Linked DNA regions of Homo sapiens: all the other regions are linked to region 3. Evidence: fine-mapped expression QTL. A gene starts in region 3. Each other region holds a variant in brackets. All regions are shown on one strand. Distances are between the middles of the regions.

Region 1 (2,500 bases), 150 kb before region 3:
TGGGTATGTTCTGGGTCACTGAGGATCAGCTCTATTCCACCTGGCATTTTGTGCTTTCCATGGGTGCTCAGGAAACTGTCTGTCTCACCCTGAGGTGAGGCTCAGGAGGCTCTGGGGCTTTGTAGTAGAAATAGAAATATCCCAAGTCCTGGGTTGTGTCCTTGTGGATGTGTCTAGAACAATTCCTGTTGTGCTACTCGCTTTGGGCAGTTAGCGAAAGGGACTAATTGTGTGCAAATACATACGTTTGGTGTTTGTTGGGAGACTTGCCATGTGACACTGCTTCTTCTTTTCTTCTCTTTTTGACTATGAACACCTGACACTACAGGAAATAAGAAACTTTCCAGTACCTAATTTATGCTTACTCTACTTTCAAACCCTGTTGGCCCCAGCACAGGGTAAATGAAACTGTAGCTTATAGTAATATTTACGTATGGGAGTCAATGAGCTGTTTAAATACTTGGATGTCAGAAAAAGGTTTCAAATTTAGCAAGCCCCCTGACTCTCCCACCCTCTGGCATGTACTGGGTAGGCCTGCCTGCTCTCTGAGGTCGAGCTCTTGTATCCTGTCCTGGTCGGTGCCAGTATAGCAATGATGATGACAGTGATGATGATGCCACTGGAACAGGCTGAGCTGTAATTGAATTAAATATCTGTGTAATCCCTAGGAGAAGCTGAATAAGGTTTGAGGATCTTGGAAGTTCAGTTATACTCTCAGTAACTGAGGTGAGATCCGTAGGCAAGGAATGACAAGATCGAGATTGATTAGCTACATGACCTTAGGAAAGTGACCTAAAGGTTGTTCACATTCAGAGTCCTCATCTTTGAATGTGAATGATATTTCTGGCCTCTCCTATCTTATGGAGTTGGTGTAAGCATCTGCATGAGATGATGGACGTTAAAGTGCTTTGTTAGCTGTTGAGACTCTTACTGAAATGAAACCCAAGGATGGGTGCCACTGAAAGAAACAAGAATGAATGCAAACTAGTTTGTGTTGGGAGTTGTACTTGACACAGCTGAATTTGCCTTTGTCTTTAGGAGAGCCTTAGCTGTGGGAAGCAGGGCTTGGAATGCGCTGATATTTATTTCTTCCATCAAAT[C/T]GGATTATGAGGCACCTGATCTGTTTAAGGCTGTGTGAGTAGAACCAGGTCCTGCCTTCCGGAAGTTCATGGTTAAATTGTGTTTTCATGGGTCACCTGGAAGGCGAGCTTGTTCAGAATGAGGATAATTGACCCAGTGAATCCTTCCTGCCTCGAGGCCCACCATGTTATTCAGATCAGTCTTGGGGGAAATGCTGTGAAAGTGTGTGTGTGTGTGTGTGTGCGGTGTGTGTGTGCATGCTCGCGTGCATGAGTTTGTGTTGAGAGAAAGAAAAAAGCCAGGAGAGTAGGATGAGTCAGATTTAACCACTGTTTTTTCCCTTTTGAAACTTGTTATGTTCATACACATACAGCAGTCATGCACTTGCTCAGAAATGTGTGAAAACCACTTAAAATGTGTGAAATGCAGCCCTTTAGAAAGTGTGCCTTCCACCACATTCTTTTGAGCAGTGGAGTGGATTTGTGAGTGTTCATATCTGTCCTCATCTGTGGGAATTGTATGTCCAAGGTGCTAATTCAGGGCCATACTGGGATGACCTGTGTGTATAGACTTGTCCTGGGTGAGATGGGAGCAAGACCATCCAATGTATGATGGGGAATTCTGTTAAACAGGTAGAATTCTGAACCTCTTGGTGGTCCTGGCTGGTCAGTTGCAGGGAGTGACGTTGAATGGACTGGGAAGATCTGGATATACCATGTTTCTGTAGGCATGATACGTGGTCCCTTAGCTTGGTATTTAAAGTTCTTTGGAAGTGACCGCTTTCTGGATTTACCTCTGTGCAGCCCCTCTGCTCCTCCCAGGTGAGGCTCATCATAGCTCCTCTTCAATGTGCTTTGTCCACAACTGCTGCCATGTTTTAGCTCCCCATTACGTTTCCTGGGATGCTCTCCTAGACTCCTCTGTACCTTTCTTCTTTCAAACCCAAAACAGGTCCCATCTCCTTAGTCTTAACTGTCTATGAATGGTCTGTTGCCTCACTTCCCAGCTCTGGTATGTAGTACGTGCTCAGTACACATTTTTGAATGCATTAATTTGGCTCTTTTCTGTGAAGGCAGCTTGTCTGTGTGTCATTCATCTGCCCAAATTTGATTGTCAACTTCCTTTGTATGGAGCTGTACTGTTCTTTTTGTTGTTTTTCTTAACTCCTTGCCCCTGCCTCCCATCACCCCAGTGGAAGAGTTATAGTCAAGGTAGTGTAGTCAAGGTCGTGCAAAAGCTACACACTTGAACCTGTTCCGTGTGGTTTCACACAAGGCACATGGCCTCCTTGGGACTCACTTCACATCACTCGACAAGGGGATAGCAGGACCCACCTTGACTGTATTGAAGACTGCATGATGATCAGGAGAGAGTGAGGGATGAGAAAGAGTTTGGAAAACAGCAGAACACGATGCAAACA
Region 2 (2,500 bases), 430 kb after region 3:
ACATGCTCCTGGAGGCCAGAGACAGGGTCTTACTCATGTTTCTCTCCACAGCACCTAGTACCATATCTGGCACATGGTAAGGTGTCAGTAAATATTTGTGAGTGAGTACTTTTAAATGACTATGGATTCTTCTCAGAATGAAGTGTCATTTTGAAATGTATTCATTCTGAACTGTAGTCCATTAAATGGGAAAAGATGGAGCTCCTTCTCAGGCCAAATTCATGCTCTTCTGGATCGGCATGTTAGTTCACCTGTTTAGTAGAGACACCATTTATTCACCATTTGCTCAACAAATATTGTTTCCTGTATGTACCAGACACCATTCTAGATGTGGTAGTGAACAAAACAGACCAAGTATGCATTCATGGAGCTTCCCTTGAAGAGGGGAGTACTGAGAATTAACAGATCTATGTGTAGAAATGGAGCGTGTTGATGGAGGTAAATGTTAAGAAGAACACTGAAGCAGAAGAAAAGGGAAAGGAAGTATCTGAGCTGGGGGGTATTGCTACTGCATACTACGTGGTTAGGAAAGGCTTCCCCTAAAAAGGTAAGAATCTAAAGCAAAGGAGAAAAATTCAGGCAAAAATCTAAAGCAAAGGAGCAAGCCAGGGACAATTTGTGGAAGCATAGTAGTATTCCAGGGACACAGAGCCACAGCGCAAGAGCATACCTGGCAGGTAGGCCAGTGAGCTGAAGCAGAGTGGGCATGGAAAAGAGTGGCAAGGTGAGAGTATGGGGCAGCTCACAAGGGCCTTGGGGACCTCTGGGAGGACTTTCCATTTTTGCACTGAGTTGGAAAGGCTTTGGAGGTTTTAGGCAAAGAAGTGACGTGGTCTGACTTAGGTTTTAAAGGGATCATTTTAGCTGCTGTGTTGAACACAAACTATAATAGAGCAAGTGTAAAACTAGGGAAACCAGCTTAGTAGCATTGTTGAGGAAGGGGTGCATATAGTCTGGCAAAAATGTTTCCTTGTAAACATCACATTGGTTTTACAGTCCTACTTACTGAGCTTTGGAAATTATTTTCTTTGAGCTAGTATTTTACCCAAATACAGCTTTAATTGCCACAGTAGCAATAGAAATTATTTTCTAAATATAATGAAATATACAACTTTTTCTAGCTTGGTTGATTACCA[A/G]TTGATAATGATAATACACTTAAAGAATGTTGGACAGTTTAAAAAGCAATTTTACATTCATTATCTCATCTAATCCTCACAGTTCTCTAATATTGACAAGGTAACTGTTATCTCCCTACAGAGTTGGAAACTAAAACATCACATGCCAAGGCCAAAGTCATGTGCCAAATTTGTGACAGGATCAAAAAGACTAAAACCCAGGTCATATGTCTCCTAGCCCAGATTCATTGACTTTGTTAAAGGGGGTTGTTAGGTTCAAATTATGTCTCAAGGTTGCTGGTAAAGGGGACATTTATATTAGCAAATTTAATGTATCATTTAAAAAGCTATCAACCAGTGAGCAAGATACTGTGCTCGGAAGGGATACATTTAAAGATGTATAAAGTATACTCCTACCCTATGAACTTATTTCTTTTGGTGATGATACTGATAACAGCAAAAACATTAAGTAACTCTTAGTATAAAATGTCGTTAAAGCTGAGTGCAGTGGCAAACATCTGTAGTCCCTTTGACTCGGGAGGCTGAGGCAGAAGGATCACTTGAGCCCAAAAGTTTGAGGTCAGCCTGGGCAACATAGCAAGACCCTGTCTCTGAAATACATACATGCATACATACATTACATACATAAATCATATGCTTTGTCCCATATGTTACATACATAAATCATATGCTTTGTCCCAAACAAATGGTACAGACAGATGCTACAGAAATTCAAAGAAGATAGTGACTTTGATGGCCTGAGATTAAGGATGGGCAGGATTCAGATAGTTGGAAAATATGGAGGAAAGGTTTCTAAACCTGGGGGTGGGAAGGAGATAATGAAAACAGAATGAACAAAGCCTTAATGATGAGGTTTTTTTTTCTTTTGAGACAGTGATTAAAACAGTCTTGTTGGAATGCAAAGATTGATTTGAGGATGACTGGATGTCTACTACTTTCACACATAAAGTACTTCTGAAAACCAGATTGAGGGGAGAATATGGAAAAGTCATACAGTAGGCTTACATATATGTTAAAAAGATGTTGGAAAGCTGGAAAAATGCAGTCAGGTTCTTATTTACACCTTGTCTTTTGGAATATAGTTTAGCAGTTTTGTTGTTTTATTATTTTGTCTTTCCATTGATCCACTTAAGTCAGATGTATCTGATTGAAACTAAAGATTTGCTGCTTTTAGCATACCTCTTAATTTCCAGGCAGCACCTTCTTCCAGGAGTTCAAAATATTTGTTCATTAACTGTCTCCATCTGATATGGTAGCTTAAGAATGGTTTAGGGCAAACTTGTCCAACCCATGCTCCACGGGCCACATGAGCCACAGGACGGCTTTGAGTAGTGCAGCCCAGCGCAAATTTGTAAACTTTGTTA
Region 3 (2,500 bases):
TGAAGGGTAGCCAGGCACAGTGGCTCACGCCTGTAATCTCAGCACTTAGGGCGGCCAAGACAGGAGGATCACTTGAAACCACGAGTTGGAGACCAGCCTGAGCAACATAGCAAGACTCTGGCTCTACAAAAAATAAAAAAATTAGCCAGGGTTCGTGGTGTGAGCCTGCAGTCCCAGTTGCTCGGGAGACTGAGGCAGGAGGATCGCTTGAGCCCAGGAGTTCGAGGCTGAAGTGAGCTATGATCGCATCACTGCACTCCAGCCCGGGCGACAGAGCAAGTTCCCGTCTCTTTAAAAAAAAAAAAAGAAAAGAAGGAAGGAATGTAGGTAGGTTAGGTGACTTGCTCGAGATCATACAGCTAAGTCACTGCTCTGATTCTAAGCCATACACTTAAAACAGAAGTCTTGAGTTACCTATAATTCAACTTCACAGAGCCCTTTAGTAGAGTTGGCTTATTATCCAGTCCCATGTTCTCTCTTTTAAGAGTTAGTAAGTCTGACAGCCATTATGAGGGTCTACAAGCAAAAGCACTAGCCCAATCATACCCAAAAACTCATGTTGGCGGAGAGCCCATGCCTCAGATGAAAGGCGTGAATAACTAGAGTGGAGCGGACAAAGCTAACAAGTCTTATAATGTACACATTAAGAAGCAGAATAAACTTCAGAGTAAATACGCAGAATAAACTTCAGAATTCAGAGTAAACACTCTCTCCCGGAGCAGCAAGGATAACAACATCACGATATCAACAATTCCAGCACCTTACACTCCTGTAACCTAGCGCAATTTCCGGAGAGCCTTCAGGTTCATCTCAACGGATCCTCGCAAAAACCTGTGGCCTGGGCTGAGCAGAGCGGGAAATCAGTCTCACTTTACACAGGAAGCCGAAAGGAACGCCGAAGAAGGCCGAGTGGGCAGAAAAGCACGAGATTAAGAGATAGGGGCAGCCACCTGGGGAGACTGGGCGCCTCCACTGACTGGAGGAAGAACGCAGGGCCCGCTGCGGGGACAAGGCCCAGAGAGGCCGTGGTGCTGGGTCCGTCGCCCGCTGAGGCTCAGGGGCCTTGGAGGTCGGCCCAGGCGCCTATCTACTCACGTTGGACCAGCTGGTCTCCTGAGAAGACGGAGGAGCAGCTGGTGACTAACGCACAGGGTACGCCAGCAGCCATAGCTGCGCTCGCGAGCCGGTTCCGTCAGGCAGCCGCTTCCGCCTTGGGCTGCACCACGGCCGCCGGCGCGAGGGGGAGACAGGCCGGAGAGGGCGTTCTCGGAATGACCAGGCTGGCCTGACCCCGCCCCTAGACCCCCTTCCGCTCCCAGCGTGGAACAGGCCAGGTCGCGCGCGGTGTTGCCATGGGGACGAGCGGCTCCGGCTGAAGGTTTCCGTGCTTGGAAACCGCGCCTCCGCGGAGGTAGCCGTTCCCTGACCTAGCCATGGCACAGAACACTGAAAACCACGACCCTGTCGGATCCATCTTAATCCAGGTGGGAAACGGGCTTCCCCCGGCCCTGCCCTGCCCAGCCGCGCCACTTCCGAGCGAGGTCCCGCGCGCCGATTCACCGACGCTCACCCATTTGGTGCGCCGCCCCTAGACTCCCTCCAACTCGCGAGAGGCTCCCAAAAATGCCCACCCAGACCTTCCCCCACGGCCCAGCACACTCCCGGTGACTTACCCTGTAGGTTACGCCCCAGAAGCAGGACTTTCTGCCTCTGGGAAAACTCTAAAACCGTTCACCCGGAACCTTTACTTCAGAAAAATTAACCTCACGCTGAGGCATCATTTTTAAATGTTATATTCTGAAAAATTTGAACCCATGACGTCGGGAGTGGAGGAGAGACAAATCGGACACTCTAGGAGGTGATAAGAAATTTGGAGACAAATTGAAATATGTGAATTGCTTTTCTTAAACACCCCAGTTTTTTAGATCTAAATGTTCCTCATTGGAGAACACACAGAAAAATCAAGATAACTTGGAATGAAAAAATGTGACATTTAAAAACTTAGTGAAAGACCTTTTTAATTTGAGAGGGGAAATGTCAAGAAAGTCTTGTCCAATACAGCTCAATTTGTAATAGTTGCACTCAGATGTTTCTGAAATGATCATGGCATTTTGTTTTCACATTTATGTGAGGTAACTTTAAGATATTTCCACATATATCATCGGTTTTAACTATCACATATATAATAGCTGCATTTGACTAAGTCTTGAAGTCATTTGTCTAAGGTCACTCTGTCAGGACTGTCACTCAGTTGGTCTGAAGTGGGTCTTACTCGTCAAAGGGATCTAATTTTTCTGGCAGAATTTTGATCTCTTACCTCCCATCTAGGAGAGACTTCCCTAAATGTACCTTTTCCCAAATACAAGCCCCTGAACTCACCAATTTCATAGACTTCCCCATTAAGAATCATACCTAATCTTACCTGATCTTTTCTCACCCTCACTTTCACCATCACGCAGCAATGAGTTTAGCCAAACTGCGAAGTCTGAGGGAACGGTCC

What was found. PIP is the estimated chance that this variant, and not a neighbour inherited with it, causes the effect. A credible set is the group of variants that fine-mapping cannot tell apart.
Region 1: its variant is the best candidate, but not a certain one, in a credible set for the expression of AAGAB in nasal epithelium (TOPMed, PIP 0.64).
Region 2: its variant is the best candidate, but not a certain one, in a credible set for the expression of AAGAB in whole blood (INTERVAL, PIP 0.77).

The regions. Positions count from the first base shown.
Region 1 is chr15:67,100,946-67,103,445 of GRCh38, forward strand. The region is part of intron 1 of SMAD3 (SMAD family member 3); the gene reads left to right. Among named protein-coding and RNA genes, the nearest start is that of SMAD3, 37 kb to the left of the region's middle. RefSeq lists an enhancer at 21-170. The variant C/T (reference allele first, on the strand shown) is at 1,101.
Region 2 is chr15:67,687,497-67,689,996 of GRCh38, forward strand. The region is part of intron 13 of MAP2K5 (mitogen-activated protein kinase kinase 5); the gene reads left to right. Among named protein-coding and RNA genes, the nearest start is that of SKOR1, 140 kb to the right of the region's middle. RefSeq lists an enhancer at 1,931-2,100. The variant A/G (reference allele first, on the strand shown) is at 1,137.
Region 3 is chr15:67,253,464-67,255,963 of GRCh38, forward strand. It overlaps AAGAB (alpha and gamma adaptin binding protein), which reads right to left and starts at 1,198. Exons shown (of 10, transcript NM_024666.5): 1 at 1,096-1,198. The coding sequence starts at 1,168. It overlaps IQCH (IQ motif containing H), which reads left to right and starts at 1,323. Exons shown (of 21, transcript NM_001031715.3): 1 at 1,323-1,484. The coding sequence starts at 1,434. RefSeq lists an enhancer at 939-1,258.